Homo sapiens: one gene and its partners. The protein of the gene in region 3 interacts with the protein of the main gene of each other region in a pairwise test. Each region holds a gene or a part of one and is shown on either strand. Other genes may lie near its edges. The genes, in order: CNST, LARP4B, KLF11 and DXO.

What was found.
Region 1: the proteins of KLF11 (region 3) and CNST interact in binary tests that used the Homo sapiens proteins (3 or more experiments, as listed by UniProt).
Region 2: the proteins of KLF11 (region 3) and LARP4B interact in binary tests that used the Homo sapiens proteins (3 or more experiments, as listed by UniProt).
Region 4: the proteins of KLF11 (region 3) and DXO interact in binary tests that used the Homo sapiens proteins (3 or more experiments, as listed by UniProt).

Annotation. Positions count from the first base shown.
Region 1 is NC_000001.11:246,569,440-246,576,461, forward strand, and holds part of CNST (consortin), read left to right. Parts: intron 1-429; exon of another isoform or gene 430-434; coding exon of another isoform or gene 435-551; intron 552-7,022. UniProt on the Homo sapiens protein: Required for targeting of connexins to the plasma membrane.
Region 2 is NC_000010.11:921,695-928,716, reverse strand, and holds part of LARP4B (la-related protein 4B), read left to right. Parts: intron 1-52; exon of another isoform or gene 53-7,022. UniProt on the Homo sapiens protein: Stimulates mRNA translation.
Region 3 is NC_000002.12:10,039,430-10,046,561, reverse strand, and holds the start of KLF11 (Krueppel-like factor 11), read right to left. Parts: upstream 3,013-7,132; 5' UTR 2,846-3,012; coding exon 2,804-2,845; intron 2,734-2,803; exon of another isoform or gene 2,675-2,733; intron 2,342-2,674; exon of another isoform or gene 2,111-2,341; intron 1,231-2,110; exon of another isoform or gene 1,213-1,230; intron 413-1,212; coding exon 143-412; intron 1-142. UniProt on the Homo sapiens protein: Transcription factor. Activates the epsilon- and gamma-globin gene promoters and, to a much lower degree, the beta-globin gene and represses promoters containing SP1-like binding inhibiting cell growth.
Region 4 is NC_000006.12:31,969,315-31,976,867, reverse strand, and holds DXO (decapping and exoribonuclease protein), read left to right. Parts: upstream 1-4,871; 5' UTR 4,872-4,939; exon of another isoform or gene 4,940-5,186; 5' UTR 5,187-5,192; coding exon 5,193-5,548; exon of another isoform or gene 5,549-5,562; intron 5,563-5,593; exon of another isoform or gene 5,594-5,693; intron 5,694-5,720; coding exon 5,721-5,956; intron 5,957-6,042; coding exon 6,043-6,262; intron 6,263-6,389; coding exon 6,390-6,525; intron 6,526-6,600; exon of another isoform or gene 6,601-6,664; coding exon 6,665-6,759; intron 6,760-6,843; coding exon 6,844-6,991; 3' UTR 6,992-7,053; downstream 7,054-7,553. Other genes in the region: WHR1 (winged helix repair factor 1), read right to left, coding at 4,111-4,247, 4,357-4,566, 4,652-4,871; SKIC2 (superkiller complex protein 2), read right to left, coding at 7,153-7,353, 7,448-7,553. UniProt on the Homo sapiens protein: Decapping enzyme for NAD-capped RNAs: specifically hydrolyzes the nicotinamide adenine dinucleotide (NAD) cap from a subset of RNAs by removing the entire NAD moiety from the 5'-end of an NAD-capped RNA.

The DNA of each region.
Region 1 (7,022 bases), on a different chromosome or scaffold from region 3:
TTAAGCTGTCTTCCTACACTGAGAGTCTGATTCTGTGGGGTAAATTAAAAACTCCTCTTCCTGAAGTACTGCGGTATTTAATTTGAGAAGTTTCTATGCAGGAAGAGAGTTCTAAGTCTCTTCCTTTTAGTGTTTTTGTTTTGTTTTGTTTGTTTTGAGACAGATTCTCATTCTATTGCCCAGGCTGGAGTGCAGTGGCAGTCCCGGAGCCCTGAACTCCTGGGATCAAATGATCCACCTCAACCTCTCAAAGTGTTGAGATTACAGGCGTAGCCACCATGCCCAGCCTCTTTCTCTTAGTGTTGACTGTGTTAACGTTGAGCCCCATGCTTGTTTAATGAGGCTCATAAGATGAATAGTGTTCAGTCATTTCCTGGCGTGTCATTGTTACTAGTTATTTACATCTGCACGTCAACAGTGTGTCAAGGCACAGTATGAGTTTCTGTCGACTAAATTGTAGGGAGAACTTGAGGACCTTCAAGAAGATTGAACTTTATTGTGAACAGGTAGAGTACCTGTTGTTGCAGAGTTATTTTCTGAGTCAGTTTCAGGTAAGGCTAAGAGTTTTATAAATGTGCTTCTTTATATCATGGTGTTTCTTACCAAGGGAAAGATCAAATCTTTGAGCAAAATTTAGAAAGGAAGAGAGTAGGTTTTATGGCTGTAGAATGCTGGGAGCCTGAGTAAAGTAAAAGATTAACTTGTGTATGGTGGTTTAGGGGAATTTAAAAGGAAAGATGGCAGTTTTTATATAAAGCAACTGACATACTGTCTCCATACGTGCTTCAAGTTGTTTTTGCAACAAGGGTGGTGATTTACGTAGAACCGTCAGTGGTTCAGAGCTGCTGTAACAAAGGTAACTCTAAAGCCAGTTAACCTCCATGGGGATCAGTCAGACCCATCATTGTTCCTGTCTTGACCTCTGTGCTCTAATAAACTTCCCTAAATACTACTTTAGCTGCTGTGTGTTATATCTACATTAATAGCTAAATTAGCCTGAAGGCCTAATTAATATTCAGTGTAATTTAATACAGGAAACATGCCCTCTTCTCAACCTTTATAGTATGAAGAAATTTTAAATTACCTGGTCAGTGAACAAACTCCCTCTGTCAAATATAGTCATGATAGACCTGGCACAATGTAGGGACTATGGGGAGTGTTAGAGGATCAAAGACAGAATTGGGGAAGGGGTATAGTTACTGGATGTTACTTGTTCTGTGAGAGATGTGTGGATGTTCTATAAGAAAATAATAATGTTTTTTGTTTGTATTTAAAACTAGATAGCTGTTTATTGGCACCCTTTTAGTTGGATAAGAGAAAATACATTGCTTGGTTTCTACAAGTGAGTCTTAGCAAATTTATTGTAGTTATTTTAGGAAGAGTAATTGATAGTGCAGTAATCTTCAGTTTTTAAAAAGCCCTGATAAGGTTTAACTGGGCTTTAAAAGCATTATATGCTTAATGAGAAATTCTAACTTAATATATGTATGTCTTGATACTGTTATGTAACCTTTCCAGTTTAGGGCCTTCAAGATTCACATGAATACAGGCTTTCCTTTATGTAGGAATCATTCTCATGGGGGAAATTATATATCCTCTCAGGGAATAATTTTGTTTTTTAAGCATTTGAAATAATTGTTTGTAATATTCGTTAAAGAACACATCATTAGCAGAATTCTGAAGTCTTATAATAGCTTGAGATTTCTTAAATTGTTTTTATCCTTTTTGAGACAGTCTTGCTCTGTCGCCCAGGGTGGAGTGCAGTGGTACGAGATCTCAGCTCACTGCAACCTCCACCTCCTGGGTTCAAGTGATTCTCCTGCCTCAGCCTCCCAAGTAGCTGAGATTACAGGCGTGTGCCACCACACCCAGCTAATTTTTTGTATTTTTAGTAGAGACAGGGTTTCACTATGTTGGCCAGGCTGGTTTCAAACTCCTGACCTCAAGTGATCCGCCCACCTCAGCCTCCCAAAGTGCTGGGATTAAAGGCGTGAGCCACTGTGCCAGGCCAAATGGTTTTTATCTTAGTTTTGAGATCCTGCTCTTTAACATTTTGGAGATGGAAACTTTTTGCCATTATACCCTCCACCCTTCCGTCTCTTAGGACTTCCTGTTTTTCATCATCATTAGCCACGTGGAAAGGAAAGACAGTGTGTGCCTATGAAAATACTGACAAATCAAGATGATTTTTCCTTTTAGATTAAGAAAAATTCTGAAACAGTAAATGGTAAATTTTGTCATATTTATTTACTTATTTTAGAGATGAGGTCTCACTATGTTGCCCAGATTAGCCTTGAACTCCTGGGCTCAAGTGATCCTCCTGCTGTAGCCTCCTGAGCTGGGGCTATAGGCATGTGCCACACTGTCTGGTTAGTCACCCTTCATTGACATTTGGGCATTTGATATTTAAATTGACAGTATCTAGGCAATTATAGAAATTAACATTATTTTGCAATTGGCATATGTATTAAATTTTCTTATGAGAATAATTGCCCTGTTTTTTTCTGGAGAGCCACTACCTGATTAAATAATCACATATTTTTTCTACCTTAGCTGCATTTTGAAAACTCAGTGAATTAGGTGACTGTGGTTTTCTAATTTGAATGAAGGTAAAGTAACCTTTAAAAATGGTTTTTGGCCAGTCACAGCCATGCCTGGGACTCACGCCTGTAGTCCTAGCTACTCTGGAGGCTGAGGTGGGAGGATCACCTAAGCACAGGAGGTCAAGGCTGCAGTGAAGCATGACTGCACCACTGTGCTCTGCACTCCAGCCTGGGTGACAGAGTAAGACCCTGTCTCAAAAATACATACATAAATGAATTAAATACTTTTTTATATTATAGATTTTGAAATAAGTTATTAAAAAATTTGGGAACTTTATAAGATCAAATGCTGCTGTCCTTGAGTATTTGATAGTATACTGCTTATATTTTGATTTTTTGTATGCATTGTCCTTGTTCATTATTTTTCTCTTCTGCAGCTTTTATTCCCAGTATACAACTAAATCTTAAAAATAATTTTTAGATGAACTGAAAAACATTGCCTAAGATTTTTCAATAAGGATTTTTGTGAAAATGTGTGTGGTTTGTTATTTAGAGATGAGATCTCACTGTTTTGCCCAGGCTAGTCCTGAACTCCTGGGCTCAAGTGATCCTCCTGCCTTGACTTCCCAAAATACTGGGATTATAGACGTGAGCCACCACTCCCAGCCAAATGTATGTTTTATTTATTGAATAATAAATAGTGGAGTTATTTATTTATGTGTGTGATATGTGGTTTTTTTAATTATTAATTTTTTAGAAAAATAGAAGCAGGGTTTCGCCATGTTGCCTAGGGTGGTCTTGAACTCCTGAGCTCGAGCAGAGTGCCTACTTCAGCCTCTCAAAGTGCTGGGATTACAGGTGTGAGTCACTGCACCAGGCCTGAGTTATTTGTTTTTACCTCATGAAACAACAACTAACATTTTAGATTTTTTTTTCCACTTGTGAAGCATGAAAAAGTTTACTTAAATTGGATCTTACAAGGATTCATGTAACCAACAGGATTTCCTCCCTCAGCGTCAACTCACATGAAAAGAGGGGTGGACGTTTGTGCAAATTATACTGGTTATGATATTGTGAAATGTAGTTTCCTGGAAAAGTCATTATTGATACCCATTTTTGGCATCTTAATTCAAATTCAGCCATCAGGCTTTATTTTAAATGATTTACACAGCAATCTCTAGATTCTTCTTGCTACAAGTATTTTAAAAATTTTGTTGTGGAGTTCTTCGGCATGCCAGTTAGAGTTATACCTGTAGCATTGGATAAGCACTGTAAAGAGCCAAAATTAGAGGTAATACCCTTGCTCTTCCCTACTTTAATCATGTAATATAGGTCTTGTGACTTGGAAGAAGATTGTCTTATTACCATTACATTTGAACTTTTGTTTTAAAATTAATCTGTTAGATCATATATTCACCAAAGCTCATCTTTTCACTAGCCAGAGAAAGCTGTATTTCAAAATAACCTAAAGTAAAATAGTATTTAATTCAAGAAGTTAGTTTTTATTATATCAGGTGGCCTCTTGGTTGGTTATAGTTTCGTGCATTCTGATGCCTGCGGGCTTTTTATCCTTCCTGTCTCCACTGCATAGCTGGGGAAAACCTAGGGATTGCCCGGTGAATGCCAACAGAGCTTTAACCTGTGTGTCCATGGCTTGCCTTCCCTGAAGCCTCAAAGAGAACAGCTGCGAGTGCAAAAACCTTATGAGCAAAATTTCTGCTCCAGGAACACTTATCTGGGCTGAGGAAACATATTCTAAGAATATCTGTTTTGTAACTAAAGCTTCCATGTACTTGTGTAACGCTTTGTGTAAAACCACGTACTTTGTATAGCCTTTGCTGGAGAGTTTCCATTTTCCTCCAGCTCTTCAGTGTAAGTGAAAAAATGTGCCCAGAATGTCTCTATAGATTATTCTGCCTTCCCTCACCTTTTAGTTTTTTCCATGGAAAGCTGACAGGTCAGAATAGGCATATTTTATTAGAAACTCGAAGTGGTGGGGGGTAGAAGTACACATCTTTGCCTCTTTTTTCCTTCTTGATTACAGAAGTAATAATGCTCCAAAGATGTTTTTTAATAAAACTGAGTCTCGCTCTGTTGCCCAGGCTGGAGTGCAGTGGCGTGATCTCAGCTCACTGCAAGCTCCACTACTCCTGGGTTCACGCCATTCTCCCGCCTCAGCCTCCGGAGTGGCTGGGACTACAGGCACCCGCCACCGCGCCCGGCTAATTTTTTGTATTTTTATTAGAGACGGGATTTCACCGTGTTAGCCAGGATGGTCTCGATCTCCTTACCTTGTGATCCGCCCGCCTCGGCCTCCCAAAGTGTTGGGATTACAGGCGTGAGCCACCGCTCCCAGCCGCTCCAAAGATTTTTTAAAAAGATAAATAAATTTTAACTTGAGGAAAACATGGTTATTCAAAAATTCGTGTTTTTTCTTTTTCTTTAAAAAAAATTTTTTTTAGAGACAGCTTGTCGCACTATCACCCAGGTTGCCATGCAGTGGCAAGATTATAGCTCCGTGCAGCCTCAAACTCCTGGACTCAAGCAATCCTCCCACTTCAGCCTCCCTAGTAGCTGGGACTGCAGGTATGCAGTCTAATTTTTTTTTTTTAACTTTTTGCAGAGATAGGGCCTCCCTGTGTTGCCCCAGCTGGTCTAGAACTCCTGGCCTCCTCCAGGAGCGATCCTCCAGCCTTGGCCTCCCAAAGCACAATACGTGTATTTTTCAGAGGGAATTCTCAACTTTCATCAGATTTTTCAAGGAATATGTTACTCAAAAAAGGACAACAACCACAGCATCAGTTTGACTTGGTTGGTTATTGCATGTCCTTCCTAAATCTCTCTTATAAGCAGCTATGGCTTTATAAGGATTCCTATGTAAAAGCATCATTTTTAGTAGTATTTTATTTAAAACAAAAATAATTTAATAGATTATGAAGGAAAGTCATAGTGAGTCAAAGAACAAATCTGAACAAATCTTCCTCAAGTATTTTATTTATTTATTTATTTATTTATTTATTTATTTATTTTTGAGACAGAGTCTCACTCTGTTGCCCAGGCTGGAGTGCAGTGGCACGATCTTGGCTCACTGCAGCCTCCACCTCCCGGGTTCAAGTGATTCTCGCCTCAGCCTCCCGAGTAGCTGGGATTACAGGCACCCGCCGCCAAGCCTGGCTAATTTTTGTATTTTCAGTAGAGACGGGGTTTCATCATGTTGGCCAGGCTGGTCTTGAACTCCTGACCTCCTGACCTTTTGTCAAGTGTTCAGACAAAAACGTGCACAAATGTTTATAACAGCATTATTCACAGGAGTCAAAAAGTAGAAACAGCCCAAATGTCCATCAACTGATGAATAGATAAATAAAAGGTGGTATATCTGTACAGTGGAAGATTCTTTGGCAATAAAAAGAAATGAAGTATCAGTATATAGTACAACATGGATACCCCTTGAAAACATGCTGAGTGAAAGAAGCTAATTGCAATAGACCGCATATTGTATAATTCCATTTACGTGAAATGTCCAGAATATGTAAATCTATAGAGACAGAAAGTACATGAGTGGTTTGAGTGATTGCCTGGGGCTGTGGTGGGGGTGCAGGAGAATGGGAAATCACTGCTAGTGGGTATGTAGGGCAGGGGGGATCTTTTCGGGGTGATAAGATGTTCTAGAATTGATTGTGTACAATTTGTGAATACTAAAAGCTATTGAATTGTGCATTTTAAGTGGGTGAATTGTATGGTATATGAATTATATGTCGATAAAGGTGTCATGAAACTCAACTAGAAAAAATACAAGTTTATCATAGAAAATATGTAAAATACAGAGAAGTGGAAGAGGAAAAAAGTAATTAGCATTTTTAAAAATTCCCTATTTTTATTTCAATGATAAAAAATAATATAAGCTTATTCAAGAACAATACTGACACTTTAAAACAACATTCTCATATAAGATTTCAGTGCTCTCTGGGCGCGGTGGCTCGCGCCTGTAACGCCTGTAATCCCAGCACTTTGGGAGGCCGAGGCGAGCAGATCACTTGAGGTCAGGAATTCAAGACCAGCCTGGCCAACATGGTGAAACCGTGTCCCTACTAAAAATGCAAAAATTAGCCAGGCATGGTGGCGGGCGCCTGTAATCCCAGATACTCTGGAGGCTGAGGCAGGAGAATTGGTTGAACCCGGGAGGTGGAGCTTGCAGTGAGCCGAAATGGCGCCATTGCACTCCAGCCTGGGCGACAGAGCCAGACTCCGTCTCAAAAAAAAAAAAAAAAAAAGAAACAAAGATTTCTCAGTAATTGGTGGTGGGAGAGTTGGATCCTCACGTGCCTATGATAACCGTGCAGTCACAGTGTATACCGTATTCCACTAGTGAACAAAACTTTAATTTTTACAGAGCAGCATCGTGTTCAGTGACTATTATTTTAACTTTATTGATTTTTTTTGCATGTCATAATTCGTAAATTTGTTTTGGTTTAATTGTGT
Region 2 (7,022 bases), on a different chromosome or scaffold from region 3:
CCAGCTGTTGGAGAAGCTGAAGTGGGAAGATCGCTTGAGCTTGGGAGGTTGAGGCTGCAGTGAGCCATGATCCTGCCACTGCACTCCATCCTGGACAACAGTGAGACCTTGTCTCCCCCCACCCCCAAAACATGCAAATTGGGACATCAAATTGTTAATGGTGTTTACAATGAACAGTGCCTTCAGGTAGCTGCAGCTACTCTACATAGATTTGCAAGTTTTTGTAGTGATAGGCTATGGTAGATGTTACCAGCCAAGGAGTGGCTGACAAACTCCTTTCACTGTTATTTCATTGTCATGTTAAAATTCATATTTTCCGTCAAAATAGTGATAGCTAGGATTATAATCTAGGTCTTCTAATCTTAGTAACGTGTTGTCTATGTTAGGGCCTCTCAAAGTTGTAAAAAAGCTGTATAGATGTGTTACCATCAATCGATTTCATTTGTTTTTATCCTAGTGTTAAAGGTACAAGTTTTTTTTTTTTTTTCTTTCCTGAGGCGGACTTTCACTCTTGTCGCCCAAGCTGGAGTGCAATGGTGCGTTCTTGGCTCACTGCATCCTCCGCCTCTCGGGTTCAGGTGATTCTCCTGCCTCAGCCTCCCGAGTAGCTGGGATTACAGGTGCCCTCCACCACACCTGGCTAATTTTTTTTTTTTTTGTATTTTTAGTAGAGTTGGGATTTCACCATGTTGGCCAGGCTGGTCTTGAACTCCTGACCGCAGGTGATTCGCCCGCCTCGGCCTCCCAAAGTGCTGGGATTGCAGGCGTGAGCCACGGCGTACCTGGCCAAAGGTACAAGTTTTAAATATGCTTTTATCATGCATACAGTACTCTTATAGATTCTGTCAGATTTAGGGATATTCTTTTCAGATTGATAAATTGCACAAAAATCTTGGAGTATATTCTTGTAATTTCTTCTACAAAATTCTCAAAACAACCTTTTTCCAATGGGGAGAAGACATGAACACTGAAGTCATGTTTTTGGAAAATACCTTGTTAAAAACAGACACTGCTGTAAGGGTTTCCTTGCTTATGCTCTTTTGTAGAACTTTATTGATGTGAAGAGTTCTCCTTTTTCTGTAAAAGCTTATTTTAGAGTACGAAGTAAATGAGGCACTCAGAGAGTTAACCTCATCAGGTCTGAGTTTAGTTCAGTTTAAACTTTTTGCTCTTATGCTGGTTGATATCTTTGTAACTACTCTACTTCTAGAGTTATTTTGATTGGAAAATGAATTCCTTTTTTAGAACATGGAATTGTAAGGTAGAAAACTGCTAGGTTCTCAAAAGAAGGGAGATAAATTCCAACTTGAAAGTTTTTTCCCCTAACGTTCTAATGCTTTGTTTTTCCTGTGTGTAAATGCCTTCCTTAGGAACAAGGAAAATTATTAACTCAGCTGTGTTTCCTTCCCTTCTCTTTCTCACTGCCCCCCCGCCACCCCATACCTTAATACCTTTTGTCCCTTCAATGCCTTTATAAACTCTGTCTTCTCATAGTTTTTCTGGTGAAGCTGTCATGGCTCCTATTTCAACCATAAAGGATTTGCAGTTCAGTGATGCTACTGGTTTTACATCTTCTTTCCCATCAACCCCATTGCCCTGGTTAGGAGACCTAGACCATGGAGTACATTGCAATATTGAAAGTATTTCATGTTTAACACAATTTTTTTTTTTTTTTTTGAGACCGAGTCTCGTTCTGTTGCCCAGGCTGGAGCGCACTGGCACGATCACGGCTCACTGCAACCTCTGCCTCCAGGGTTTAAGCGATTCCCCTGCCTCAGCCTCCTGAGTAGCTGGGACTACATACAGGTGCGTGCCACCACGCCCGGCTAATTTTTGTACTTTAGTACAAATTGGGTTTCACTGTGTTGGCCAGGCTGGTCTTGAACTTCTGACCTCAAGTGACCCATCTGCCTTGGCCTCCCAGAGTGCTGGGATTACAGGCGTGAGCCACTGCGCCCGGCCATGTTTAACACAAATTTGAAAGCGTACTGCTTAGTTTTTTAGGGGGAGTATGATAATCATAGAGATGAGACTTGATCTTTGCTGAAAGTGTTCTTTATGAAGTCTGATGTGCATAAATTTGCCCAATAAAATGCTCTTTTATTTACACAAATCATTTTAGTCGCACTGTAGCCAGAGTGTGGCATAGCCTGATGGCTGGCCTCTTTTCAGAAACTCATCAGGACTGCCCTAGGCCTCGCCCTGTGTGTGCTTCCACTTCTGTGTCTTCCTTCTTGCCCTGCCCCACCTTTTAATCAGGACCACGCCTCCCTCTCCTACCTTGGTGTTGCAAACGTTGTAGCCATTGCTGTTGGTAGATTCTTTGACTGAAATTGAATGTCCACCTCCTTTAAAAAAATTTTTAAAATATTTACTTAGCTCCTTAAACCATCCTTAAAAAGATATTTTAGGAGTCCTCCAGACTGCTTTGCATTAACTTCTGAGATTATGCTTCTCTGTTTCTGTAGCAACTAAGTGTACCTTTGTGTTACTTAGCACATAATTAATGTAAGCTCCTTGTGAGTGAGATTCTCTTTTTATGCTTGTCACCTCTGCCCAGCCCAGGGACTGGTAAACTGTAGATGTTTAGTGAAAGTAATTCAAGTAAAGAGATAAGAATGCTCAAAGACATCTCCCACCTGTGTTCCAGAGAAATTGTTTGCTGATTGTATACTTGCACATTTCTGTAAACAAATAGGAAAATCTTTACTCAAAAAGCATACATTAGAAAGTTTCTTATAGAGTATAAAAGTTATATTTACAAGTTTTTAACTGACTTTTCATAGCTACATTTAGCGCATAAAGTATTTTCAGATAGAGTAATTTAGCCACATGACCTTTAAATTATACTGTTTCTCAGTCTTTAAAAACGTGCCCTCTTTCGGCCAGGCACTTTGATTCACGCCTGTAATCCCAGCACTCTGGGAGGCCGAGGCGGGTGGATCACCTGAGGTTAGGAGTTCGAGACCAGCCTGGCCAACATGGTGAAAACCTGTCTGTACTAAAAATACAAAAATTAGCCAGGCGTGGTGGTGCGTGCTCGTAATCCCAGCTACTTGGGAGGCTGAGGCGGGAGAATTGCTTAAACCCGGGAGGCAGAGGTTGCAGTGATCTGAGATCACACCACTGCACTCCAGCCTGGGCGACAGAGTGAGGCTCTGTCTGAAAAAAAATGAAATAAAATAAAATAAATGCCCCCTTTTAGATAGCCATAGAATTTCTTACCTTTATTTTGCTTTAAAATAAAAACATCATGTTAACCCAAAATGAAACAATTGCAATATTGAAAATGTATCTTTTAAACTTTAGTGGATGTTTTTCCATTTTTTATTTTCTGTTAAGTATTGCTAAAGGGCCTGGCATAAAGGAGGGCCACTGAGATTACGGTAAGAAAAGGGTTCATTTTCTTCCTGTGGCAGGTGTTCTGACCAGTTGAACACTAGGGATGCAAAGATGAAAGGCAACAGGATTTTTCTGTAAGGCCCGTCATCCAGCAGGAATAGGAAAGTGCATTGTTCTATGTAAAGCCATAGAGACTGGCCTCTGGAAGTGGCTGGCTCTCAGCTGCATGCTTCTTTGGATAGTCTGCTACAACAGTCACATATATTATGGTGTATCCTGCCCTGCACTCTCCTTGTCTCCCCTTCTTGCTGTACTTTTTTCATAGTATTTATGACACTATAACATACCATATAATTTACTTACTAATTTATGTATGGCCCGTCTTCTCATACTTGAATGTAAACTCTTATGAGATCAAGATTTATATTTTGCTCCTCAGTATGAACCTAAGCCTTAGAACAATATCTGGTAGGTAGCATGCGCTAAATAGTTGATGAGTAGATCCCAGTATGGTGAACAAGAGGGATAGATTGCCATCTCTTGGAGTTTGGTGTCCATTGAGACAGGTGGACAATCACATAATCCAATAAGAAAGTGCAGTGCACTGACATCCGGCCTGGATGGGAGGGATCAGAAGGCTTCCCTGAGGTTGTGATGGTGGCACCGAGGTTGGAGGGATGGTGGTGGAGTGAGAGGTCAGCAGAGAGAATTACCTGTGTAGTGCCCCAAGTGGGAAAGGTGCAGAGTGCTTTGAAGGAACTAGTGTGAACAAGGCTGAAGGAAGAGAACGCGGCTGGGAGGTAGGTGGAGAGTTTTATTTTACAGAGCTTGGGAGGTCCCATATAGGTTGATTATTTTGCCCTTTATCCTAAGACCAGTGGGAAGCAGTTGGAGGATTTTATGTCATAGAATTGTCTTTTTTAAATGATTCTGCTTTGCAGAGTCGTGTGGAAGCAGGGAGTGGTCACATGTGGGTGTTACTGGGCGGCAAGGTAGGGAATCTCTTTCTTCTTGTGTACACCTCTCTTCATAGTTGAAAAGGCCAAGCCCCAGTCTAAATGAGACCAGCCAGCTTCCTTAAAATCCCTTTAATTTGTATTACATATAATCGTGTATGTTTAAAAAATATTTTATTTTTTTGAGACAGTTTGTGTCACCCAGGCTGGAGTCCAGTGGCATGCTCACAGCTCTCTGCAGCCTCGACCTGGGCTTGAGCGATCTTGCCACCTTAGCCTCCCGAGTAGCTGGGACCCATGGGTGCATGCCACCACACCTGGCTAATTAAAAAAAAAATTTTTTTTTGTAGAGGTGGCGGGTCTCACTATGTTGCCCAGTCTGGTCTCGAATTCCTGGGTTCAAGCAGTCCCAGAGTGTTGGGATTACAGATGTGAGCCATTGCACCTGGCCTAAAAATGCTTTAAAATTTGTTTATAAAATATGTCTTAAATTTGCTAATATTTGCCAGTTGTTTAAAGTATATTTGTTATTTCAGATAATTTCAAACATGCCTTTTTTAGGAGTGTCTCTGAAAAATGAGAACATTTTGTTTTCACATTTCAGAGAGCTTTGTTTTTATTGTCAGTGCTCAAAATACAGAGATGAAAACCTAGTGATCAATTTGGTATAGATGTACAAATTGCTTCAGTTATTGTTATCTGTTAACATGTTGAACATTCTCTTTTTAAAAATATCAGGTCCTTTAAAATTTTCTTTAAAGGTGGCTTCATGCTTTTCTGAGCATTCTTTTTATCTTTGTTGATTACATATTTGTATTTCATTGTTGAGATTATCGTCTGTGTAATTTTTGCCTTATCAGTCAGAGAATACCAGTAACCTTTAGGAGGCATGTACAGATTTTTTTTTTTTTTTTTACTGGGTCCATAAAGGGGGAAAGTTTGGTCAGGTTGGGGAGCAGTCACACTTCTTCCTGAGAGGTAGTAAATACCAGGCTCTCCATCTGGAGGAGGGGTCAGTAAATCACGTTTGCAAAGGAAAAGATGCGGTAATTGGTAGGATTCAGACCTGTGCCGGGAAACCCCAATGGATTTCTAGTTCATTGCTTTAACCATTCAGTCCTGACTTTAAAAGTAGACTTGAAGTCCCTATGGGAAGCTACCTTCTAAAAATCTAGACATTTGAAAGGATGAAAGCATTGTCTCTTGTGCTTTTAGGAGGTTAAAAACATTTAAACCACGGATAGAACACTGGCATTTAGTGTTTCTTGAGTACTGTAAATACAGTAGCTTACTGTGAAAGTCTTTTTGGGTGGACTTCTGTCTGGCATGATTTGTTTTTTTTTTTGAGGTGGAGTCTCACCTGTTTCCCAGGCTGGAGTGCAGTGGCACAGTCTCCGCTCACTGGAAGTTCTGCCTCCCAGGTTCACGCCATTCTCCTGCCTCAGCCTCCCAAGTAACTGGGACTGCAGGCGTGTGCCACCACGCCCAGCTGATTTCTTTGTATTTTTAGTAGAGACGGGGTTTCACCATGTTAGCCAGGATGGACTCAATCTCCTGACCTCAAGCAATCTGCCTGCCTTGGCCTCCCAAAGTGTTGGGATTACAGGCGTGAGCCACTGTGCCCGGCCTGCGTAGCATGATTTTAAGTTCTATGTTCCATATTCCTCTGTGGTTAATATCCATACCTCCAGTGATACTTGTTATTTATTTATTTATTTATTTATTTATTTATTTATTTATTTAACAGACGGGGTCTCGTTCTGTTGCCCAGGCTGCAGGAGTGGAGTGTAGTGGTGTGGCCACTGCTCACTGCAGCCTCCAATTTCTGAGCTCCAGTGATCCTCCTGGCTATTTAAATAATAATTTTTTGAGACATGAGGTCTTGCCATGTCACCCAGGCTGGCCTCAGTCTCCTGGCCTCAAGTGATCCTCCAGCCTCAGCCTCCCAGGTTGCTGGGAATATGAGTGTGAGCCCCTGTGCCTTGCTCCATTGACAGTTGTTACCAGGCTAAATTGCTAGTTCAGGTTGCCTTTCAGTGGGTCACTTGGAGCAGGGGTCCCTAACTCCCAGGTTGTCCGACCCGTACCCATCATGGCCTGGTAGGAACTGCGCTGCACAGCAGGAGGTGAGCAGCAGGGTGAGTGAGCATTACTGCCTGAGCTCCACCTCCTCTCAGATGAGCAGTTGCGCTAGATTCTCATAAGAGCTCAAATCCTACTGTGCACTGCACATGCAAGGGATCTAGGTCGCATGCTCCTTATGAGAATCTAGTGCCTGATGATCTGAGGTGGAACAGTTTCATCCTGAAAGCATCCTCCTCACCACCCCCCACCCCCTGACCCCTCCGCTCTGTCTGTGGAAAAATTGTCTTGCATGAAACCTGTCAGTCCCTGGTGCCAAAAAAGATTGGTTACCGCTGACTTGGAGTACTGACCATTGTGAAAATGAGTAACTGATGAATCAGCAATAGTTGCTTCTTCACGCTGTCAGTGAAGACCAAAGAATGAATATGGGAAGCAGTATTACCAGTGTTGCTGCGTGTGCACGTGGCCTTCAGTTTTTCCCTGCTCTTCCCATTTCTTTGTACACACCGATGAATTTAATCTCTTCTGCTGAAATCATTATTCTTTAGGGCTCAGTACAGGAGAGTTAAACCTAAGCATGAAAGGACTGGAAATGGGATGTAGAATTGCCAAATAAACTGTAGAAGCATTGAGGCACTT
Region 3 (7,132 bases):
CTACTCCTTCAGACCCACACAGAGAGGATACGCAACTTATTTGCCAGCATCCCAGGGAATCTTCTCACAAGTTCTTCAACACACTGAGTTCAGCTACTCTAGTCATTTCACAAAAACGCTCCTCCCTCCCACCTCCTCTTACCAGAGTCGATAAAGAATGGAAGTCTTTTGGTAGTTCAGGTGTGGCTGCATCCATATGCACAGTGGTGGTGACATCCCCAGAGTCAGAGACAGGCGTGAGGGGTCTTATCCGCAACAGGTCACCTTTCTGGGATCTTTGACCCCAGGAGCTCATACAAACAAGAGCCTCGACAGCTTCCATGTCTGTCTGCTCCAAGATGCTGCAAGTAGACCTTTCGCTGTCATGCCGCTTCCTCTCCAGGATGGACTCACATATGTCCATGATGTCAACCTAAAGGCGACACAACACAACGGCTTCTCAGTGCAGGGGAAATACAGAGGCCACCCATGATGGGCATGTGGATATGCATATCAGAAGCCTACAGTAGGCATGTAATGCACATGCAATAGTCTATAGCAACAAACACCGAGGTGTAGTAAAAGACATTCAAGGAATGCTCATGACAATTCGGCTTTTAAGCCAACATTTCACAGACAGAACTAAGCTGGCAAGCGTTGCCACCAAAAATCCTGACTCTTAAAAAGGGCTACTAAGTTCATATTTTTCTTGGGTAAATGATTAATAAAATTAACTCCTGAGGTTCAAGCCAAAAAGTGGCTGGGAGGAGGAGCAGCTGCCCAGGGAGGAGGAGCCAACACTGAGGCCATCTAGTCGGTCTGCCAGTGGCCGCGGCGCCCTGACCATGGCTCTCTGAGGCGGCAAAGCCGCCAAAGCAGTGTCCCTACAGATGCTCTCAGGGACTCTGGGGCCTTCCGCCTAGGCTTCCAGCACTCCACGCAGGTAGGGCCCATGGCGATTCCACCAGTTCCCTCCACAGATTCGGGAGTGGAAGTCATCTGTTACTGTCCCAAGGCTAGCAGGTGGTGACAAGAAGCCAACCTGCCGCGAACCCGGAGAGGATCTCTTTGCAGTTTTTTTTTTCTTTTTGAGATGGAGTCTCAGTTGCCCAGGCTGGAGTGCAGTGGCACAATCTCGGCTCACTGCAGTGCCCGCCACCACACTTGGGTAATTTTTGTATTTTTAGTAGAAAGAGAGTTTTGCTATGTTGGTCAAGCTGGCCTTGAACTGACCTCCCGGGTTCAAGCGATTCTCCTGCCTCAGCCTCCAGAGTAGCTGGGAGGCGTCCGCCACCACGCCCAGAAAATTTCGTATTTTTAGTAGAGACGGGGTTTCACCATGTTGGCCAGGCTGGTCTCCAACTCCTGACCTCAGGCGATCCACCCGCCTTGACCTCCCCAAGTGCTGGGATTACAGGCGCCCGGCCTTGTTTTTTTGAGACAGAGTCTTGCTCTGTTGCCCAGGCTGGAGTGCAGTGGCACCATCTCGGCTCACCACAACTTCTGCCTCCCAGGTTCAAGCGACTCTCCTGCCTCAGCCTCCCCAGTAGCTGGGATTACAGGCGCCCACCACCATGCTCAGCTGATTTTTGTATTTTTAGTAGAGAGCGGTTTTCCCCATGTTGGTCAAGCTGGTCTCGAAAGCCCGGCCTCAGGTGATCCGCCCACCTCGGTCTCCCAGAGTGCTGGGATTACAGACGTGAGCCACCGCACCAGACCCTCACCGTCTCTTTAATCTGGAGGGGAGGAGGGAAGAGGCTGGAATGAGCTGATCTCTTCCAAAAGAAAACTAAGCCGGGGGCGAGAGGGTGATATTACTCTGAGAAGAGTAATACCCCTCCCTCCCAGGGAGGTTACAGTGGGCCGAGATCGCGCGCCCACTGCACTCCGGCCTGGGCGATAGAGCGAGACTCCCTATCAAAAAAAAAAAAAAGGAAAGGAAACTTTAAATGTACGAAGATACACGTTTCCTCTCTATCTGCCATGCACCAAAGCATCAAAGCTTTCCGTCTGCCGAGGTTCCCCGAGATCAAACAAGACGAGGCCACCTCAAATCCCCGGCCTCTGTCCCGCAGGCTGCGCCACTAAACCCCCTGTGATGTCACAGAACCGGGCGCCGAGGCCGACTCACCACACGGGCGGGAAGGGGCTCGCCCGGCCCACAGTGCCCGCACACCACGAGGCCCGCGCTCTGCCCACGTCCACGGCTACCTCCCCGAAGCCCCCAGGTCGCGACGCTTAGGGCCCCCAACGCTCGCGTGCCGCGTTCCCGCCTCCAAGCGTTGCCCCGCCTCCAAGGCAGTGCGGCGCTCCCGCCTCCCGTCGTTGCCCCGGCCCCTAGACCTTGCCCGCCCCCAGGCCCGAGCGGCACTACCGCTAGCCGCTCTTAACCCGCCCGACGGCCGCGTGCCCCGCCCCCAAAACCGTGCCGCGTTCCCGCCAGCAGCTCTTGCCCCGCCCCCAAGGCCGCGTGCCGCGTTCCCGCCAGCCGCTCCCCCGCCCAACGGCCGTCCGGCTCACAGGACCGGGGTGACGTCATGGCTGGAAATAGCCGCGGGGCCAGCGGGGCGGGGCCGCCCAGGAAGCGCAAGACAAAGCTGCGCGGGGAACACGCCCCCTCCTCGCCCCCGCCGACCCGGGCGCGCCCGTCGCGGCCGCCGCCCCGCCCGGCTCCGGAGCCCGCCCAGGCCCCTACCGGCGCGGCCGCAGCGAAGCCCTGCACGCCCCACCTCCCGCATTTACAGGCGCGCGAGTGCCGCACCACTTCCCCCGCCTCGCCCCTCGCTCAGACGAGTAGTCCCGCCGCGGCAGCCCCACCACTCACTGCGCGCGCGTCGTCTGGGCCTGCGAAGTCCGGCGTGTGCATCGTGCAGGCCGGCCGGGAGCAACAAAGCGGCCGCGGGGCGTGAGCTCGGGCGCAGCAGCGGCCGCACGTGGGCTGCGGGCGGCGGCGGCGGCGGCAACCCGGAGCTCCTGCGGCCGGCACGCGCCTCGCCCGCCCGCGCGGCTCTGCCCCGGCGCGGCCCTCGCGGCGCGGGAGGGGCGGGGCGGCCGCGGAGGGAGCGGCTGGCGGGGCGGGGCGCGGAGGCGAACCAAAATACACCGCGCCCCTGCCGGGGCGGGGCCGGCCACCACCAGCCAATTCGTGCCCGGCCGGCCAATGAGCGCCGCGGGGGGCCGCGTGATCGGAGCCTGGCCGCGGCGTGATCGGGCAGGGCGGGACGCGGCACGTGTTTTGGTCGGAGCGAGGGGCGGGGCCTGAGGCCCTGGAAAGTAAGGGAAAGGTCGCAGCGGCGCCAGGGGCAAGCGGGGCGGAGGGGGCGGCGGGGGCGGAGGGGGCGGCGGGGGCGGAGGGGGCGGCGGGGCGGCGGGGGCGGCGGGGCGGAGGGGGCGGGGCGGCGGCTGGGGAAATCCCAGGGCCGGGGCCGGACTCGGTGCGGGGAGAGGGGACCACGCTTATAGGAACCTCCTGCAGCCCCACCGGCTGAATCCATCGGTAGCGGAGACCCACCTAGAGGCCTCAACCTGGCTTTTGTTTGGTTGTTTTTAACTTCTGTCATTCTCCCTTCGTCTCTTAGGAATGCGTCCTTGACCGGAGAGGTCGGAAAGCTGGCCGGTTCTAGGTGACATTCCTGCATCCGGTCATTTTTGCAGACAGCGGGAGTCAGAGCTTATTGGCCTGAGTGTCCCGCTGACGCCCCTCCTCTGGCGTCTCTGGGCCTCTTCCGCTCTGTTACGGGGTCAGGGGAAGCCGAAACGGGCAGTCACCCAGAAGGCGCCCGCTGAAACCCGCCCATTCTTCCCAGGCCCCGAGAAAACGCCGCCCCCTCCGGGAAGTCCTCGAGCCTGCAGGAGACATCTAGCCCGCTGTCCAGGGCACCTTTTTTTTTCTCCCTATATTTCGGTTGCTCGCGTCTCTTGGTGTGGTTTGCCCACGTCTGCAGCGCCAGGTTCGTGGAGAGCAGGAACCATGCTGTTTATTTTCGTCGCCGCAGCCTTCAGCTCAGCGAGGAGCCACCCCTCCTCCGTCTGTTCACTGCGCGCGCCTTTGCTGAGCTGTGATGCGGGTTGGCGCTCAGTGCAAGGGGCAGAGGCCGCAGTGAGGAATCCTCCTTTTTTAAAAGCTCCATCCAGGGAGCGGGAGCAGAGAGAGAATCCCGGCACCCCGGGGCTTTGCTCTGAGCGAGAGAATTCTGGTCTTAGGGGAACGGGCTGGGCCCCACCACTCACATGAGCAGGACTCTGGTCCCCACTTGTTCCTTCGGGGCCCACTCGGGTTGGGCAGAGGGGTTGACCAGGCTGAGGAGAGGGTGTTTGCTGAAATAGTAAGAGGGTTTAAGACGAAAGAACCGTGATAAACTGCTCGCATGAAGACCCCGGAGGCTCTGAGAGGGGCGCAGGGTGTTCTGTGTGTAAAAAGTTAAGTCTTAAGATACACACTGGAATATTCTCTTTTGCCTGGACTCCTGCATTCGCCTTATAACTGGTCTCCCTGCGTCCACTCCAGCTCCCAGAGCCTCTTCCCACTCAGCACCCCCAGGGGTCTTTAACCCTTTCAGTGGCTCCCACTGTACTCAGCGTAACGCTTCTGCTCCCCACTGTGGCTTGTGAGCTCCTGCAGGGACCCAGCCCCATGCCTCTCCCCACGCCCCGGAGGGACAGCCTGGGCCTCCTCTTGGGCGCCTGTCCCACCAGCCCCTCTGCCGTCTCCAGGTCCTCGCACTTGCTGTTCCCTAGAATGCTTTTCCCCCACATGCCCCCTTTACTCTCACCCGCAGTCCACCTGGAGAGGCCCCCTCTAGCGGACACACCCTCGGGGCCGACCTCCAGTCCCCTTCTGGCGGGCTTTCTTGTTTTCTTCCTCCACAACACTTTTCTTGAACTGCCCCTTTTCCATTACTTCAGTTATTTATCATCTGTCTCCCCACCAGAAGGACTCTCCCAAGGCCAGGGAGCCTGGCTGTTTAATAAGTCCACGTAGGTGAACGAGCGAATCGAAGGTATCCACCAGCCTCCCTGCTTGAACATCCCGTGAGCACCTCTAATTGTGTCCTTAAAAAAACTGAACTCAGGGCCGGGCGCGGTGGCTCACGCCTGTAATCCCAGCACTTTGGGAGGCCGAGGCGGGCGGATCACCTGAGGTCAGGAGTTGAAGACCAGCCCGGCCAACATGATGAAACCCCGTCTCTTCTAAAAATACAAAAATTAGCCTGGCACGGTGGCAGGCGCCTGTAATCCCAGCTACTCAGGAGACTAAGGCAGGAGAATCGCTTGAACCCAGGAGGCAGAGATTGCAGTGAGCCGAGATCGCACCACTGCACTCCAGCCTGGGCGTCAGAGACTCAGTCTCAAAAAAACAAACAAAAAACTGAACTCGGATTCCAGCCAAATCTGGATTTCTCACCTCCGTGAAGGGTACAACTGGAGACCCTGTTCCTTGATCTAGAAACCTGAGCGTCACCTTTACCTCCTCCCTTTCGCACAGTTGCTGTCTTCCGCCAATTACATGCCCTTCTTCCTTCTCAGTTCCTCTCAAACTCTTATGTCACCCACGCCAGCCCTTGTCCTGGCCACCACCTGCTCACCTGAATTGTTGCCACTGCCTCCCAACAGGTCTCCCTCCCTCCAGCCAGACGCCCTACAATCTGCCCTCACCTCACTGCCAGAATGATCTTCTGGAAGCAGAGGTGGAGCTGAACCTGTATTCAAGCCGTCAGTTGGAATCCAAACAGTTATAGGACTGACTTCAGGCTCCATGGCCAGGAACCCATGAGTCTTTGTAGCCAGGCTCCAGCCAGCACTTCCTGCATCATTTCTGACCAGTTTCCCAAATTGCTTTCCCTGCTGCCTTCCTGCCCCCACTGACCCAATACAGAACCCTGTACTCTCAAGGTCACGCCACTCTCTTCTGTTTCTAGACAGCATTCCTTCTGCGTGGAACATGCCAACCCTCGTCTGCTTTGACTTTGCAAAACTGCATGAGACCGCCGGGCGCGGTGGCTCACGCCTGTAATCCCAGCACTTCAAGAGGCCGAGGCAGACAGATCACCTGAGGTCAGGAGTTTGAGGCCAGCCTGGCCAGCATGGTGAAACCCCGTCTCTACTAAAAATACAAAAAATCAGCCAGTAATCCTAGCTACTCGGGAGGCTGAGGCAGGAGAATCGCTTGAACCCAGGAAGCAGAGGTTGCAGTGAGCCGAGGTCATGCCATTGCACTCCAGCCTGGGCTACAAGAGTGAAACTCCGTCTCAAAAAAGAAAAAAAAAAAGAAAAAAAGACTGCATATGACTCCCCAGTGAAGCCCTCCCTGATTGGCCTCTGCAGAAGGCAGCATGCCCGGGCTTTGGAGTCAGACCTGCATACAAATCCTTGTTTTGCCGGTGTGACCTTGCCAAGTCTTCTTTCCTGCAGGACAGAAGGCGGCAGCAGCTCTCCCTGAACTGGCACTCTGGCTTCTCTTGCCCCAGGGTCTGTTTCTGCTCCTTGGACAGCAGGCGCATGTGGGAACTGTGCCCTCTTCAGCCATGAGCCCCTGTTCTGCGCACATCTAGCCCATCTTCCAGATGGACAGACAGTCTGTGGTCGTCGCCAAACCCCTGAATCTGGCCCTGCCCGCAGTCAGAGGGATGGCAATTTGTAAGCTACAGACTATTGCGAATCATTCACTTGGAGACTGAACTAAGACTACTGGCACCAGGCTCCGTAGACCCTCGGGAAGAGCATGGTCTGGCAGGCAGACTGGATGTGGCCACAGATAACATCCCCTAAGGGGAGAGCGTGAGCCTGCAGGCCAGAATGCCACCACTTTCTCCTGTGTCGTTCCAGAGAGAGCCTGTGGCTATGCACGCTTGCTGCTACAGAGGGTAGTGCTGTATACCTCCTGGGCTCACTTACTGACTTTTCAGTCTAAGGGCTTATTGCAATTGGTACATAACGATCATACTTTGTAATGGTTAAGTAATATTCCATCATATGGATGTGTTGTTTATTTAACATTCTGGTTGAATAACCAAGACTTTTAGGTTTCCAGTTTTCCAGGAACATCATGCCCCTCCATCATTTGCCCACCTGGAAGGATAACTACAGGATAAGCAGCTCTTAGAACTGGAATTGCTGAGTTAACTGCTCTGTGCATTTCCTTGCTTTTTCTTGC
Region 4 (7,553 bases), on a different chromosome or scaffold from region 3:
GTTTCGCTGTGTTGGCCGGGCTGGTCTCCAGCTCCTAACCGCGAGTGATCCGCCAGCCTCGGCCTCCGGAGGTGCCGCGATTGCAGACGGTGTCTGGTTCACTCAGTGCTCAATGGTGCCCAGGCTGGAGTGCAGTGGCGGGATCTCGGCTTGCTACAACCTCCACCTCCCAGCCGCCTGCCTTGGCCTCCCAAAGTGCCCAGAGTGCAGCCTCTGCCCGGCCGCCACCCCGTCTGGGAAGTGAGGGGCGTCTCTGCCTGGCCGCCCATCGTCTGGGATGTGAGGAGCCCCTCTGCCTGGCTGCCCAGTCTGGAAAGTGAGGAGTGTCTCTGCCCGGCCGCCATCCCATCTAGGAAGTGAGGAGCGTCTCTGCCCGGCCGCTCATCGTCTGAGATGTGGGGAGCGCCTTTGCCCCGCCGCCCCGTCTGGGATGTGAGGAGCGCCTCTGCCCGGCCGCGACCCCGTCTGGGAGGTGAGGAGGGTCTCTGCCCAGCCTCCCCGTCTGAGAAGGGAGGAGACCCTCCGCCCGGCAGCCGCCCCGTCTGAGAAGTGAGGAGCATCTCCGCCCGGCAGCCGCCCCCTCCAGGAGGGAGGTGGGGGGGTCAGCCCCCTGCCCGGCCAGCCACCCCGTCCGGGAGGTGAGGGGCGCCCCTGCCCAGCCACCCCTACTGGGAAGTGAGGAGCCCCTCTGCCCGGCCAGCCGCCCTGTCCGGGAGGGAGGTGGGGGGGTCAGCCCCCCACGCAGCCAGCCGCCCCGTCCGGGAGGGAGGTGGGGGGTCAGCCCCCCACCCGGCCAGCCGCCCCGTCTGGGAGGGAGGTGGTGGGGTCAGCCCCCCCCGCCCGGCCAGCCGCCTCGTCCGGGAGGTGAGGGGCGCCTCTGCCCGGCCGCCCCTACTGGGAAGTGAGGAGCCCCTCTGCCCGGCCAGCCGCCCCGTCCGGGAGGGAGGTGGGGGGGTCAGCCCCCCGCCCGGCCAGCCGCCCTGTCCGGGAGGTGAGGGGCGCCTCTGCCCGGCCGCCCCTGCTGGGAAGTGAGGAGCCCCTCTGCCCGGCCACCACCCCATCTGGGAGGTGTGCCCAACAGCTCATTGAGAACGGGCCACGATGACAATGGTGGTTTTGTGGACTAGAAAGCGGGAAAAGGTGGGGAAAAGATTGAGAAATCGGATGGTTGCCGTGTCTGTGTGGAAAGAGGTAGACATGGGAGACTTTTCAAAAAAAAAAAAAAATAGTGGAATTATCAAAAAGACAATTAAAAAAAAAAAAAACAGCACTTTGGGAGGCCGAGGCAGGCAGATCATCTGAGTCAGGAGTTTGAGACCAGCCTGGCCAACAGGGTGAAACCCCATCCCTATAAAAATACAAAATTAGGCCGGGTGCGGTGGATCATGCCTGTAATCCCAGCACTTTGGGAGGCCGAGGAGGGCAGATCACGAGGTCAGGAGATCAAGACCATTATGGCCAACATGATGAAACCCCCATCTCTACTAAAAATACCAAAATTAGCTGGGCATGGTGGCGCGTGCCTGTAGTCTCAGCTAATCAGGACAGTGAGGCAGGAGAATTGCTTGAACCCAGGAGGCAGAGGTTGCAGTGAGTTGAGATCACACCACTGCACTCCAGCCTGGGCAACAGAGCGACACTCCACCTCAAAAAAAAAAAAAAAAAAGGGAAAACTAAGGCAACAATGACCACAGCAGTCACCTCCCAGGGACATTCTGATCAGAGACATTTTGATCAGAGAGGGATATATGTGGGATACTGGTCATATTCTATAGTTTGACCTAGGGAGTGGCTAGATAGGTATCTGCTTTATAAACATCATTTAAATTATATATGTTTATATTTTCATTCTGCAACTTTTAAAGGTTTTTAAAAACAAAAGCTAACACCAATACATTAAAATCAACAAATACTCCTTAAGGAGTGGTTCCATCTGGCATGCTTCCTCACGGGAGACCTAGTCAGGGAGACTAGCTCACCTCAAGTGAGTGCTAGACTGCCTTCCTTTTCTTTCCTCTTTTCTTGAAAGATCACTATTAACCTTCTACCTGCTAAATCCAATGGACAGATTTCAGTTCTGGGTTTTTTTGTTGTTGTTTTCATTTTTTTAGAGACAGGGTCTCCCTCTGTTACCCAGCCTGGAGTGCAGTCGTGCAATCATAGCTCACTGCAGCCTCAAATTCCTGGGCTCAAGCACTCCTTCTGCCTCAACTTCCCAAACAGCTAGAACAATAGGTGCACACCACCATGCCCAGCTAAGAATTTTTGTGTTTTAATTTATTTATTTAGTAGAGATGGGATCTCAGTTATTTAGTAAAGATGGGGTCTCACTTTGTTGCCCAGGCTGGTCTCAAACTTTTGGTTTCAAGCTATACTCCTGCCTCAGTCTCCCAAAGTGGTGGGAGTACAGGCATGAGCCACCACACTCAGCCTAGATTTCAGTTTATATTTTACTTTACCTCTTCCCTCTTCTTAGACCACTGTCTTGAATCACAGGTTCTAATACTGCCAACTACTTCACTTTCTCAAAAATCTCTTTACTTTCACAGTAGGCCTCTTCCTGGGTTACTTTTTTTTTTTTTTTTTTTGAGACAAAGTCTAGCTCTATCACCCAGGGTGGGGTGCAGCGGTGCTATCTCAGCTCACTGCAACCTCCGCCTCCCCAGCTCAAGCAATCCTCCCACCTCAGCCTCCCCAGTAGCTCTATAGGCGCGTACCACCACGCCTGGCTAATTTTTGTATTTTTTGTAGAGATGGGGTTATGTCATGTTGCCCATGCTGGTATCAAACTCATGAGCTCAAGAGATCCACCCACCTCGGCCTCCCAAAGTGCTGGGATTACAGGTGTGAGCCACCGCGCCGGCCTCTGGGTTCCTCTTAACTCAGGCAAGTCCCTCTCTGCCTCTGTCACAGATTCCTCTTCTTCTGCTTTCCCTTTATGTCAGTGGATCTCAAATTTTAAGGCACACTTAAAAAGCACTTGAGGCAGTTCAAAAATGTAGAGTCCCAAATCCCGCCCCAAGAGAGCGTAATTCATTAACCTTGGATGAGTCCCAGGAACCTGTATTTTTTTTAACAAGCAGCCCACGTAATTTTGACACAGGCATAATAACTCAGCTCATATATTCAGTAACACTGCCTTAAATGATGGTGTTTCCCAGCATTGTGGATTTGACCCTATTAACTTCCACTCTAAACCTGGAGTCCTTAACCACGGACCTCGCAGGATTAGTAAAATATTTCCCCCCTAACTATACATACACCCTATGTATATGTGGCAAACGTGCATTTTTCTGGAGAGAGATAGCCATAGCTTTTATCACCTTCTAAAGATTACAAAAAGGTTAGAAATCACTCCTCTACCCACTCTTCCTACTGGATCTCACCACATCACAGAATTAACCACTTGCTATTCACACCTCCATGACTTGTAATTCTATTATCACTGGCCCAGAATTCTCTCCAACTCTCATATCCAACTGTCTAATACCTTTGTCTTTGGATGCTCCACATGCACCATCAACTCAACTTGTATAAAATTAAACACATTATCTGTAGTCCAACAACTAAATGTGCTCCTAATACCACCAGCCACGCAGTCATCTGGAAAGTCTGAGTTGTCCTGGACTCCTCCCTCTTCCTCACTCTCCTCTCCCTCCCTACTGCACTGACCTAATTTAGGCCTTCACCACTTCTCAGATGCAGTATCTTCTTAGCTGACCTCCCTGCCTCATCCACTATCTCCAATACACCATTCCCTCTCTCTATGATATTCTCTACCAGCCCATCGCCTCAGTGTAAGATGGAAACAACACTGATGTACAAGGCCTGTCATGATCTGACGTCTGACTGCACTCCCAGCGCTGTATGTTCGAACCATGCCCCATGACTCGGTTTCCCCAAAAGCCTCGTTCTTCTACCTCCATGATTTGAAATGCCCTGTACTACCTGCGGGACTTTTAACAGGGTCTCTGTGGCACCCCAGTGCCTGGCACAGTGCCCTCGCCTGAAAGGCCTAATGCTTGCTGAACGGCTGGCGGAGTGACTGAGTGACAGGGAATTCCAGGAGTTAGGAAAGGGGCTTCCGGCGGTCGCACCGACGCCCCTCACCAGCTGCCGGTCGGCCACGGTCCTGTCAGGCACAAGGCTGTACACCTGGCTCCTCAGCACGATGGGCGGCAGCGCGTCCTCAAACAGGCCTCGCGGGAACAGCTGCATGAGTTCTGAGACAGCCGCGCGCGCCGACCCTGGGCAGATAAATCGGCTCACGGACAGGGAACTGGGGCGGGGACGCGGTTCTAACAAAACTCTCGGCTACCGGAAGCGAGGCCCCACCCCCGGGGTTGCCATGGTTACCTGGCTCACCCCGAAGAGGATCCGACTCCACAGGCCCTCGCTTCCGCCGCCTCTTAACTCCAAAGGTCTCCGGGATCAGGTGATGCCTCTTCCAGCTCATATCCCGGGATTTTATGGTACCGGGGAAGGGGTAGGAATGGAGGGAAGAGAACCTGAAAATAGGGTCTTCCGGCGCAGAGCAGTGACGTACGGTCTCCCCGGGCGTCCCTCCTAGACCAGGTGATGACGAAAGGAGCGTCAACTTGTCGTCCCTCAGGCCCGTCAGTGCTGGGAGGGGCGGTGGCGACGCACATACCAGCATCACCTCCGCCAGGCCGGGCCCCACGCCGGCCGCGGATTGGCTCCCTCCAAGGGCACGCACGCCCGGGGACTCGTTGGCGGCGTGGAGGGGCGCCGGTGGCCACGTTGGTGTCAACCTCCTTCGTGAAGCTCACACCTCCCCCGCCCCGGGAGGGGTTTGCCCGCCACTGTCGCTGAATGATTGCATCATCGAAAGCAGAAAACCACTTTTGCATCCTTCGGCCTCTGGCGTGCCTGCCATGACGTCATAGCTCTGCGGAGGTGGAAGTTGGGGAGCTTTGAGGTAACTGGATTCTTGATCTGAGCGCAGACGTCCTTCCTAACCTCACTGCATTTGGAGGACCTGGAGGGAGGGTGGGTGAAGGGCAAGGAAAGAGGCAGGATGAGAGCTTGGCCGCGGTGGCGTCTGAGGGGCCTGAATGTTTCAAGGCCAGAGCCTGGCGATCAGGTGGCTCGCTTAGTCCTAAACCAGTCATCCTTCTCCAGGCCTCCTCTGTAGAATGGAAACTCTGTACCCCTGCTTGTCTTAGGACCTCATGGATCCCAGGGGGACCAAGAGAGGAGCTGAGAAGACAGAGGTAGCTGAGCCTCGGAACAAACTACCTCGTCCAGCACCTTCTCTGCCCACAGACCCTGCCCTCTACTCTGGGCCCTTTCCTTTCTACCGGCGCCCTTCGGAACTGGGCTGCTTCTCCCTGGATGCTCAACGCCAGTACCATGGAGATGCCCGAGCCCTGCGCTACTATAGCCCACCCCCCACTAACGGTCCAGGCCCCAACTTTGACCTCAGAGACGGATACCCGGATCGATACCAGCCCCGGGACGAGGAGGTCCAGGAAAGGCTGGACCACCTGCTGTGCTGGCTCCTGGAACACCGAGGCCGGTTGGAGGGGTGAGCAAAGCGTGGTAGGCAGTATATCTGGAGACCCGTACCTACCCTCTAAAATTAGGAGAGCCAAAGCCGGGGTGAGAATCAGTCCTTAGAAGAAACAAGACTATTCTTCGAGGGGAGCATCTCACTAATGCTTGTGTCAGACCTTCAGCCTGTAACTCCTGCCTCTCAGGGGTCCAGGCTGGCTGGCAGAGGCCATAGTGACGTGGCGGGGGCACCTGACAAAACTGCTGACGACACCGTATGAGCGGCAGGAGGGCTGGCAGCTGGCAGCCTCCCGGTTCCAGGGAACACTATACCTGAGTGAAGTGGAGACACCGAACGCTCGGGCCCAGAGGCTTGCTCGGCCACCGCTCCTCCGGGAGCTTATGTACATGGGATACAAATTTGAGCAGTACATGTGTGCAGGTGAGTTGCCCCTGCTTCATAGCCCCCTTCCCCTTCCCAGAGGTTGAGAGCCCCCCACGCCTGCTGCTGCTTCTCTCCTTGTGCAGACAAACCTGGAAGCTCCCCAGACCCCTCTGGGGAGGTTAACACCAACGTGGCCTTCTGCTCTGTGCTACGCAGCCGCCTGGGAAGCCACCCTCTGCTCTTCTCAGGGGAGGTAGACTGCACAGACCCCCAAGCCCCATCCACACAGCCCCCAACCTGCTATGTGGAGCTCAAGACCTCCAAGGAGATGCACAGCCCTGGCCAATGGAGGAGTTTCTACAGGTTCAGGATCGGGGTGGGCAGGGCGAGAGCTTAGGCTTGAAGGCTGGGAAAGGGACTTGGGGAGGAGGGTGAAGGCAGAATGGAGGGTGCACGAGGGGTCCCACTGATCCCTTGCTTTTCCTGTCAGACACAAGCTCCTGAAATGGTGGGCTCAGTCATTCCTCCCAGGGGTCCCGAATGTTGTTGCTGGCTTCCGTAACCCAGACGGTTTTGTCTCTTCCCTCAAGACCTTTCCTACCATGAAGATGTTTGAATATGTCAGGGTAAGGGAACGATGTTGCAGCTCCCACCCGTATCCCCAAACACCAAGACCACAGGTCTAGCATCCAGGGCAACAGCCTGCCTTCTCTCCTCCCACCACCCCCACTGCCCATCTTCTGCCTCCTCCTCTGCCTGCTCCAGAATGACCGTGACGGCTGGAATCCCTCTGTGTGCATGAACTTCTGTGCCGCCTTCCTTAGCTTTGCCCAGAGCACGGTTGTCCAGGATGACCCCAGGTGAGGCATTCAGCTCTGTCCCTCCCCTCTGGATCCCAGGATCCAGCCTCTGGCCCTCAACTGATGCCTCCATCTGCCCCCCAGGCTCGTTCATCTCTTCTCTTGGGAGCCTGGCGGCCCAGTCACCGTGTCTGTACACCAAGATGCACCTTACGCCTTCCTGCCCATATGGTATGTGGAAGCTATGACTCAGGACCTCCCATCACCCCCCAAGACTCCCTCTCCCAAATAGTAATGCTTTAGAGGGAGGCAGTCATATCTCTGTGTGCAGATAATAAAAGCATATTTCTAAGAGGTTCTCTCGCTGTCTTCTTAGCTGAGTCATCCCTGTCCAGCAACTCAAGCACACAACAGTGCTTTGCTGTTTTATCATCATGTTTTTACATGGGGCATTCACTGGGTGTAGAGGCTGGCCGCAAATACGATGTCCCGCCGTAGCAAGGTAGCCGCTGTCTCCATCTTGGCACCCAGCACAGGCTCTCCTACCAGGCGGGCTGCCCCCCGCAGTGAGCGACACATCTCAGCCAGGCGCTGAATGCAGCGGACCACCAGGCCCTCAGGGGTCCCTGAGAGCCCTGCCAACTCGGAGAAGGGCTGTGGGGAAAGTAGGGTGAGGACTGGATGCACTCAGCCTGGGCAGGTTCTCCCCAGCCAGCCGTCTGCAAAATCCCAAACCTCAGGTACTCACCATGCCCCGGGCCCACTCATATACAACCTCAACCAGCCCAAAATTCAGCTCCCCCACAAATTCCTCCACCGTCTGGTTCAGGCCACAAGCCACCTGGACCTCACCA